2 separate regions of the Homo sapiens genome follow, and region 2 is linked to region 1. The links come from fine-mapping of genetic effects on gene expression. A gene starts in region 1. The other region holds a variant in brackets. All regions are shown on one strand. Distances are between the middles of the regions.

The links.
Region 2: its variant is fine-mapped to the expression of ADPRS in whole blood (TOPMed, PIP above 0.99).

What each region holds. Positions count from the first base shown.
Region 1 is chr1:36,086,662-36,092,035 of GRCh38, forward strand. ADPRS (ADP-ribosylserine hydrolase) reads left to right here and starts at 2,231. Exons shown (of 6, transcript NM_017825.3): 1 at 2,231-2,454; 2 at 4,583-4,679; 3 at 4,957-5,164; 4 at 5,249-5,374. The coding sequence starts at 2,244. TEKT2 (tektin 2) reads left to right here. Exons shown (of 10, transcript NM_014466.3): 5 at 43-186; 6 at 270-384; 7 at 543-650; 8 at 778-921; 9 at 1,067-1,146; 10 at 1,312-1,614. The coding sequence ends at 1,525. RefSeq lists enhancers at 1,734-2,319, 2,320-2,904 and silencers at 2,049-2,138, 2,249-2,678.
Region 2 is chr1:36,053,675-36,059,049 of GRCh38, forward strand. AGO3 (argonaute RISC catalytic component 3) reads left to right here. Exons shown (of 19, transcript NM_024852.4): 18 at 1,272-1,471; 19 at 1,963-5,375. The coding sequence ends at 2,071. Among named protein-coding and RNA genes, the nearest start is that of TEKT2, 28 kb to the right of the region's middle. The variant A/G (reference allele first, on the strand shown) is at 2,310.

The DNA of each region.
Region 1 (5,374 bases):
GCCCTTGGGGGATGGTCCTGATGGAGTCTGCGCTTTCCCCAGCCTCTTGCAGGAAGTCCAACAGCAGCTCAACTCCGACCATCGGGGCAAAATGGAGACACTAGAGATCGACAGAGGCTGTCTCTCTCTCAACCTCAGATCCCCAAACATCTCGCTGAAGGTTGACCCCACACGTGTACCTGATGGGTAAGAAGAGTGTTTCAGCCAGTCTCTTCTCCTCCCCTCCCAGGCCACACCCTCATGACCCCCATTTTCCCTGCCACCTGCAGCTCCACCACACTCCAGCAGTGGGATGACTTCAGTCGGTTCAACAAGGACCGAGCGGAGGCTGAGATGAAGGCAGCCACAGAGCTGAGGGAGGCCACTGCTCTAACTATTGCTGAGGTGACAGGCCACCCACAGCTAATGGATGGTCCCAGTGTGCGCTCAGCCCTTATCTTCTGTTCCCTGCTGTGCATGTGGCCCCCTGCCCCTCGCTTGAGTAATATCCTCAGGCAGCCCTGAGTGTAGACCCTCCCCTTGCCCTGTGTTTTCTCCTTCAGACCAACAACGAGCTTGAAGCCCAGAGAGTTGCAACGGAATTTGCCTTCAGGAAGCGGCTGCGGGAGATGGAGAAAGTGTACAGTGAGCTCAAGTGGCAAGAGAAGAATGTGAGCATCTCCAGGGGCCTGGACTTCCTGCTGTGGGATGAGAAGCCGCATGCCCCCGCCAGGAGGCACTGGACCAGGCATGCACGTGAGTCCAGCAGGTGGAAACCAGTCACTCTGTCCCCTGCAGACCTTGGAGGAGATCGCTGAGCTGCAGGAGGACATCCGGCACCTGGAGGAGGATCTGCGCACAAAGCTCCTGAGCCTGAAGCTGTCCCATACCCGGCTAGAGGCCAGAACCTACCGGCCCAACGTGGAACTCTGCCGGGACCAGGTGAGAGGGTGTCCCAGTGGCGCACGGGCCCCCTAGCCAAGGTTTTCTCATATTCCTGATGGAGCAAGGGCACTGCTGTCAAGGGGCAGCACTCAGGTAAAGGACAGTGTGGCTGACTTGGAACTCCCAACCCCTCTGCCTCCAGGCACAGTACGGCCTCACCGACGAGGTTCACCAGCTAGAGGCAACCATCGCTGCCCTGAAGCAGAAGCTGGCGCAAGCACAGTAGGTCTCGGGAGTGGGCGGAAGGAGCAGTGAGACGCTGCCCACAAATGGGGCCTCTTGCTGGCTGCTGGCTCCCTGGGGCTGTCTTCCTGACTGAAGGCTATGCACGCAGCCCAGGCCTCCCAGCCTCATGGGGGCTGGGGGGTTGTCAATGTCCTTCCCTAGGGACGCACTGGACGCCCTGTGCAAGCACCTGGCCCGGCTGCAGGCTGACATTGCCTGCAAGGCCAACTCCATGCTGCTGGACACCAAGTGCATGGACACACGGCGCAAGCTGACCGTGCCTGCTGAGAGGTTCGTGCCTGAGGTGGACACCTTCACACGTACCACAAATAGCACCCTGAGTCCACTCAAAAGCTGCCAGCTGGAGCTGGCCTAGCCTTGGAGGACTGCAGGAGGAGGGCAGGGTTGGGTGGGCAATGGAAGGAGGGAGGAGAGAAATGAATGGAATAAATGCAGAGGATCTCAGGCCGGCTGTTCTCTGCCCCACTGTATGTAGCCAGCAGGGAGAGGGTTCTTGAACACCCTCCTGTCTATGGAGGAGCAAAGATGGGGAACACTATTCCTCCGAACTCCATGTACCAAATCCAGTTCTTTCCCTCCCCTCAGGGCACCCCTCTCTGGGCTGGGTCAGCACTCCTGGGCTGCAGCAGCGCGGCCTCTACCTGGCTGTGTCCCAGTTGGCCCCTGGTCCGCCCTCCTGATGCTTAAGGGAGGCCCACAGGGGGCAAGGGCCCGGTGGGAGGGCTTGGGGGTGGTCCCGGCCTCGGTGGGGAGGGCCGGCTGGGGGTGCGGAGTTAGGGTTGCTCGCCTGCGGAAGGCAGTGTGGGCTGCAGTGATCCAATGGTCTGGCTCAGTGCCCATCCCCCGGAGACCCCATAGTGGCCTTCCCACCCAGTTAGCCCAGTGGTGAGGAGCGGAAAACCGAGACTCAAAGCACAGGCTGGCGGGAAGTGCGCGGCGCCGCGACTCCGGGCCGCTGGGCGGCGCTGTGGGCCTGGCGGCGGAGTGGAAACTCTAGGCCCCAGGGAGCGCTGCGGACGGAAGTAGGGAAACTGTGAGGGCGGCACCGGAAGTGGCGAGCAGTCTGCGCGCGGATGGCCGCAGCGGCGATGGCGGCAGCGGCAGGTGGAGGGGCTGGCGCGGCCCGCTCCCTCTCGCGCTTCCGAGGCTGCCTGGCTGGCGCGCTGCTCGGGGACTGCGTGGGCTCCTTCTACGAGGCCCACGACACCGTCGACCTGACGTCAGTCCTGCGTCATGTCCAGAGTCTGGAGCCGGACCCCGGCACGCCCGGGAGTGAGCGGACAGGTGGGCGGGGCCGGGCGCAAGTCAGAGGCCGTGCGGGAGGGAGGCCGAAGGGGCGCGGAGCCTCCGGGGGCGACGGGTCGGGGGTGCGCGGGGATGAGGCTGCCGAGGGCACCGGGGCCAGAGCCGGATGACCCGCAGACAGCTTGAGCTCAGCGAGTGCCAGTGCGATCTCCGGCCTTATAGACGTCTCGCCCCGAACATCCCGTGCTCGGGGCGTGGCAGCACCGGGGCCTCAACCGTGCAGGGTGTGGATAAACCCATCGTAAGTTGAAAATACCTGAAGTGGAAAGTGCGCTTTCAGCTTAGACGACCGTTTTATCTGGACGCAGCCCCATCGGACGTCGAGGAGCCTATGAATGCGTATCAGCGTTATCAGAAAGCCGAAAAAAACTTAAGTTGAACCATCCTAAGTCGGGGACTGTCTGTCCACCCTTGCCGACTTGACCTCTTTTTCCCGGTTCTCTAGAGTCAGTATACCACCAGCCCGTTCTCCACCCCGCAAGGCGTGCTTTGGAAGCCTGACTCTAATCGCGTCCTCCCCTGCCTAAAACCCTGCTGTGATTTCCCATTACCCTTAGTACAGAGCCACATTCCTTAACGTGTCCGACGTGGTCCGGCCCTCCCACACGTCTGCAGTTTCGTTTTCCGCCAGCCTTGGCCTTGCTTTCTGCTCTTCGGTTCCTCACACCATGATTCCTCTAGGCCAGGCGTTTGCATGCGCTGTCTCGCCTGTAAAACTAACTTCCCTTCCCTTGTGGGCTCAGATCCCGGCTCAGGTAGCAGGTGTGAGGTCAAGCAGAGGAGGTGAATCTTCTTGGAGAGCAGGTAGCATAGTAAGAAGAAAGGGCCATGGTCAGAACCCTGGAGAACACCGGTAATTAAGAGGGAGGGAGGGAGGGAAGGGGATTAGGGAAGGAAACAGTTTGATAGGAGGAGAAGCAGGAGTGGCTATCAACGAAACCTAGGAAAAGAATTTCAAAATGAAGACACTGATCACTGGTGGTGTGCTCCAGAGAAGTGAAGTAGGAGGAGATCTGGATCCAGAAACTATCATTTTCAATCTGGGTATGGTGGCGCACACCTATAATCCCAGCTACTCCAGAGACTGAGGTGGAAGGATCATCGCTTAAGTCCAGGAGTTCGAGACTAGCCTGGGCAACATGGCAAGATCCTGTCTATAAAAAAGAAAAACAAAACAAAAACAAAAAGACTGGAGCTGCAAGGATGGCAGCCACAAGGGGATGGAAGTTTTCTTTCAGAAATCAGAAGATCAAACCATGATGTAGGCTCATAATAAATAAATACATAAAATAGAAAGCAGCAGGACTGACTTGGAATAAAGAATTGCTGAAAATCCCATTGCTGAGATCCTAAGGCTTCCCAGGCCCACGAAAGTGAATGGGAGTGAGAAACTGATTTGAGGTCATTTTAGATGTGGTAACTCTGAAACATGAGTAGAGGCTGGGTGCCGTAGCCACAACTGTAATCCCAGCGCTTTGGGAGAGTCCACTTGAGCCCAAGAGTTTGAGACCAGCCTGGCAACAGGATGAAACTCCATCTCTACAAAAAAAAAAAAAAAAAAAAAAAAAAGCCAGGCGCAGTGGTGTGCACCTGTAGTCCCAGCTACTCGGGAGGCTGGGGCAAGAGGCTCCTTGAGCCTGGGAGGTCGAGATGGAGTGAGCCATGGTCGTACCACTGCACTGCAGCTTAGGCAACAGAGTGAGACCCTGTACCAAAAAAATAATAATATAAACTAAAATAAAAGGTGAGCAGGGCCAGGCACAGTGGCTCAGGCCTATAATCCCAGCTCTTTGGGAGGCCAAGGCAGGAGGATTGCTTGAGCCCAGGAATTCAAGACCAGTCTGGACAACAGAGTGAGACCCTGTCTCTACAAAAAAATAAAAGTAGCTGGGTGTGATGATGCATGCCTATAGTCCCAGCTACTTGAGAGGCTGAGGCAGAAGGATAGCTTGAGCCCAGGAGTTCAAGACTGCAGTGAGCCATGATTGCACCAGTGCACTCCAGTCTGGGCAACAGAGCGAGACTCTGTCTCCAAAAAAAGCAAAAAACAACAACAAAAAAAACAAAGGTGAGCAGGAGGCTCTCATCCTCCCTCCTCTCCCCACAGAAGCCTTGTACTACACAGATGACACAGCCATGGCCAGGGCCCTGGTGCAGTCCCTGCTAGCCAAGGAGGCCTTTGACGAGGTGGACATGGCTCACAGGTGAGGGGGATGGTCCTGGGCTGAGGCAAACCAGGTGGGAAAGTTATTGCACCCCTTGACCAGAGGAATGACATTTGTGCATGTCCACGCCCCCAACCCTCCACAGAAGCCTGTGTCAGGCTGGCACAGCTTCCCAAGCTAAAACAGCAGCACTGCTGGTGCAGGCTCCTTAGGCCCCCGAGGCTTTCTCTTTTTCCAAACTAGCCTCGATTTCTTCTCTCCCAACCCTTAGAGGCATCTTGTAAATCTGAATTCTGTCTCCCCTTCTGTTCCCTAGATTTGCTCAGGAGTACAAGAAAGACCCTGACAGGGGCTATGGTGCTGGAGTAGTCACTGTCTTCAAGAAGCTCCTGAACCCCAAATGTCGCGATGTCTTTGAGCCTGCCCGGGCCCAGTTTAACGGGAAAGGCTCCTATGGCAATGGAGGTGCCATGCGGGTGGCTGGCATCTCCCTGGCCTATAGCAGTGTCCAGGATGTGCAGAAGGTATTCAGGGCGGGCTGGCTTCTGGGCTGTCCCCTTCCTCTTCTGCAGCAGGGCTTCTGTGACAGCAGGTCTCCTCCTCCCTAGTTTGCCCGGCTCTCGGCCCAGCTGACACACGCCTCCTCCCTGGGTTACAATGGCGCCATCCTGCAGGCCCTGGCTGTGCACCTGGCCTTGCAGGGCGAGTCTTCCAGCGAGCACTTTCTCAAGCAA
Region 2 (5,375 bases), 33 kb before region 1:
GCTCAGCAATCTTCCTGCCTCAGCCTCCCACCTAGCTGGGACTACAGGTCCACACCACCACACCTGGCTAATTTTTTTTTTTTTTTTTTTTTTTTGAGACAGTCTCGCTCTGTCACCAGGCTGAAGTGCAGTGGTGCGATCTCGGCTCACTGCAACCTCCAACTCCCTGGTTCAAGCGATTCTCCTGCCTCAGCCTCCTGAGTAGCTGGGCTTACAGGCACGCATCACCACGCCTAGCTAATTTTTGTATTTTTAGTAGAGATGGGGTTTCACCATATTAGCCAGGATGGTCTTGATCTCCACCACATCTGGCCCACACCTGGCTAATTTTTTAAATCTTTTTGTAGAGATGAGGTCTTCCTATGTTGCCTAGGCTAGTCACAAACTCCTGGGCTTGAGCTGTCCTCCCACCTCAGCCTCCCCAAAGTGCTGAGACTATAAGCATGAGCCACCATGCCCAGCCTGAACAGATTTCCTTTAGGATATCAGTTTGAAACTTCTGCTGTAGTCAGCAAATAACCAATAATATTTCACAGAGACTAAAAACTGTTCTTTATACATCTTCCCAGCTTTACTTTTCTATTTTATTTTATTTCATTTCATTTATTTATTTATTGAGACAAAGTTTCACTATGTCACCCAGGCTGGAGTGCAATGATGGGATCATAGTTCACTGCAGCCTTGACCTCCTGGGCTCAAGTGATCTGCCTGCCTCAGCCTCCCAAGTAGCTGGGACTACAGGTGCATGCCACCACATCTGGCTAATTTTTTTTTTACCTTTTGTGGAGATGGAGCCTCACTGTGTTGTGCAGGCTGGTCTTGAACTCCTGGCCTCAAGCTACCCTCCCACTTTAACCTCCCAAAGTGCCAAACCTGTTTTTTATGTGACTTGGTATTAAATATTTATTAAAAAGTTCAAAATTGGGCTCAGCACAGTAGCTCACGCCTGTAATTCCAGCACTTTGGGAGGCTGAGGCAGGCAGATCGTTTAAGGTCAGGAGTTTGAGACCAGCCTGACCAACATGGCAAAACCCTGTCCCTACTAAAAATACAAAAAATTAGCTGGGCATGATCACACATGCCTGTAATCCCAGCTACTGGGGAGGCAGAGGCACTAGAATCTTTTGAGCCCCAGAGGTGGAGGTTGCAGTGATCTGAGATCACGCCATTGCACTTCAGCCTGGGTGACAGAGCAAGACTTTGTCTCAAAAAACAAAACAAAACAAAAAGAGTTCAAAATTCAACAGTGTATGTCATTGCCTTCTCTATAGGGTACCAGTCGTCCTTCACACTATCATGTTTTATGGGATGATAACTGCTTTACTGCAGATGAACTTCAGCTGCTAACTTACCAGCTCTGCCACACTTACGTACGCTGTACACGATCTGTTTCTATACCTGCACCAGCGTATTATGCTCACCTGGTAGCATTTAGAGCCAGATATCATCTTGTGGACAAAGAACATGACAGGTAATATAAAAGCATAACAGGTTCTCACCCAAATCCCAATATTGTCTGCATGGTAGGATTTTCAAGTTCCACAAGCTATTAGCGGAGTCAGTGATCCATGTGAAAAATGATGACAGAACTGACTGCCCAAGGTTTCCTATTGAAATATATTGTCTAGGCTCATTAGTAATAGAATCATGTAGTAACTTAGTTGTTTTACTACATTAATTCAAAGGAGAGATTATTGGTAATAAAGTGATACATTCAGACAGATAGACAAAATGATACGATATCTAGGTTTGCTTCTAATTAATTCTGGGGAGGTGAGAGAAGTAAAACAAAATTGGCCTTGAGTTAATAGTGATTGAAGCTGAGTGATGGACACATAGATTGTTACACCAGTCTCTTATTTGTTAATAATTTTGAAATTTTCTACAACAAATAGTATTTTTCGGAATTATTACATCAGAATAGAAAGTTTGTTTTTGTGTTCATTGCCACTTCTCTTACAGTGCTGAAGGAAGTCACGTTTCAGGACAAAGCAATGGGCGAGATCCACAAGCTCTTGCCAAGGCTGTACAGATTCACCAAGATACCTTACGCACAATGTACTTCGCTTAAATAGTCCAAGTATATTCTCTGAGAGGAAGTACTGAAAGATGAATTGACATACAACGTATGTTTCCAGTGAAGTCAATTGAGTAAGGACACCTCCAGCCATACAGAAACCAACACTGTGTGGGGGCCAAGGTCTGATCCTTATGTTAATACAAGGAAGATTGTTTACTTCATCAAGGAACACAGCATCATTATGCAATATGAAACCAGCCAACTGCTTTTTGTGCGGTCTCCTATAGGA[A/G]GTATCGCAATTGTTTTGTTTTCATTTCTTGTAGTCTAACCCTTTTAATGCCTTTACCTCAAGTTGCTTGGCAGCACAACTATCTTTGCAAAAAAAAGTAAAGAAAAAGTAAATGATGGTTTAAAAAATACACACCTTCATGAATAATCAAAGTGATTTTTCAGAATTATGTGTGCAAAAAATTAATGTGCATTCATATATTCTTGTAAAAGGTGTCTGTGTATTTTTAAAATATATACATCCATACTTCATATGCATATATATCTAGATCTGGATTGATAATAGATATATATGTGTCTGTTATATATTTTAGAGTTCATTCCATTGGGGAATTTTCTTTCCCTTTTATTCTACCCCCACTACCGCCTTTATTTCTCTATTTCCCTTGCCTTCATCACCTACATTTTTTTCCCAGTCCTACCAGTGACATTCAAATGTTGATGTATCTGGTTCGTTTGAATATAAAATATGGCAAACTAGAATTCTACTTTTATTTTGCATACCCTACTCCTGACTCCTATCTCATACACAATTCTGAGTTCTCAACTCTTGATATTGCTGTCTTAAGAAACAAAATTTTATATATATATGTATACATACATACACAGACACAGACACACACATATATATACATAAAATAACTTTCTGTGAGAGTGCGTCTCTCCCCTCCCACTCAGAACATACATTTACCATTTGCGCAATTTGTATATAAGCAGTAGCAACCTGAACTATTCTTTTTCTTTTTTCTTTTTCTTTTCTTTCTTTTTTTTTTTTAATGAGACAGAGCCTCGCTCTGTCACCAGGCTGGAGTGCAGTGGCGAGATCTCGGCTCACTGCAACTTCCGCCTCTCGGGTTCAAGCAATTCTCCTGCCTCAGCCTCCCGAGTAGCTGGGTTTACAGGCATGTGCCACCACACCCAGCTAATTTTTGTATTTTTAGTAGAGACGGGGTTTCACCGTGTTGGCCAGGATGGTCTCGATCTCTTGACCTTGTGATCCACCCGCCTCGACCTCCCAAAGTGCTGGGATTACAGGCATGAGCCACCGCACCCGGCCTACTATTCTTTTTCTTTAGTGAGTTTGTTAAAGCTGCTATAAATATAAAACCTGTCAGAAGTTGTAACTTTCTCTCTGGTAAGTGATGTGTATTCTGAAGCCTTCTGTTTCTATGGGTTATACATGGAAATTCTTTAAAGGTTTTATAAAGGGTAAATATTTTAAAAGATTAGAGCTCTGTAGGGTTGAGACCTCTGAAATTGAGTAGAGAGAAGAGTTTGTTGAGGGATTTTTTTGTTTTGTTTTTTGATAGTTTACTTGCTGCCTCTCATACCTTAATGTGATTTTCATATATTTTTTATATATATATATGTATGTGTGTGTATATAAACACATATGTATGTGTTTGGAAGTATAGCTTCCTTTTCTTTTATATTTATTAGAATAGTGCTTTAATAATTATAGAATTGTATTGGCAGCATCTTTTATAGAAATATAATCATGTTTATTTTAAGAACTGACAACTTGTTTTTGCTATCTTTTAGTGCAATAAGCAGTTTTAAAGGAAAGTTGTGTCTGCATCTTTACCATGGATAGTAGGAGGAACAGGCACCTCCATAGTTTAAAAGGGCAAAGAATACAGCCTTAATTTCAGAAGGAAAGTTTTGTAATTTTCAGTTTTAAAGCATATCTTTTAAAATTCATCATGATAAAAGGCTGGACGCGGTGGCTCATGCCTGTAATCCTAGCACTTTGGGAGGCTGAGACAGGTATATCACCGGAGCTCAGGAGTTTGAGACCAGCCTGGCCAACGTGGTGAAACCCCGTCTCTACTAAAAATACAAAAATTAGCTGGGCGTGGTAGTGGGCACCTCTAATCCCAGCTACTCGGGAGGCTGAGGCAGGATTGCTTGAACCTAGGAGGCGGAAGTTACAGTGAGCCAAGACTGCACCATTGCACTCCAGCCTGGGCAACAAAACCAAAACTCCGTCTCAAAAGAAAAAAAAATCATAATGAAAATGAAGTGAAATTGCCTAAATGAGTCCAACTTGAATATTAGAAATAAAGTTGAACTTTTATATAATTGTGAATAGCTTAACATATTTAAATTATTTGCAAATAGATTGTGTTTATTGAAGAATCATATTGGCTAGATGCCCATTTTCATTTACTAAAATGAATCAGGAAAATGCAAGATGATATTTTAAAACTTTTGCTAATGTATCACCAGTATAACTTTCCTTTTAAAATTAAGGTGATAGTAACAAAGGAAGTTAGGACTTTGATCATTTTAAATCAGTTAAATCACTGAAACGTGGGAAATTGTTTTACAAAACTTTTATTGATTACACTTTAAGGTATTAAAAAGTACTATAAAGCTATCAAAACTGAGTTTATCAGTAACATTGGATTCAGGGGAGCTTTGCACTTTGTAACTCATGAAAATTGCATTTTGATTTTTTTTTTTTTTGCACTGGTTCAGAGTATAGATACTACAGATTGTTTCCAGTGGGCATTGTTGTTAGCCTTTCAGAATTCCATCTGCACGTGAAACCTAATGGATTTAGATCTTTAGTTTCTCTCTTACCTGTAATCCACTATTATTGCCAATTCACTGTATTTTGAGCCTAAAATCTGAGCCCATGTCCTCTGACAGGCATGAAATCTTTTGTCCCTCTGCCAGAAAACTAAGAAAGTACTGTATTTTGTATGTTTATTATTTTGAAGTGTCTGAAATGCAATTTACAACACTGTTGCAAAGAACTTTACAAAAGGTAATATTTGTATCGTATATACATTTTTTCTCCCAGCCTTCTCCCATCTCCTCCAGAAAAATTTCCTATAAAGATGGATTTTTTTACACTGAAATTTTACTGAATATAGTCAGGATCATGGGCAAGAGAAGAAAATAGTATACCCAAGATGATAAAAATTTAATTCGTCTATGCTTGATCAGTGTGAGTAAAACATCTTCCTTTATCATGGGAGCTGCACAGATTCATGTGGGAAACTTTAGGGAATGACTGTAGATACCCTTTCTCTATGTACTCTCTCACCTAATTTTCAGT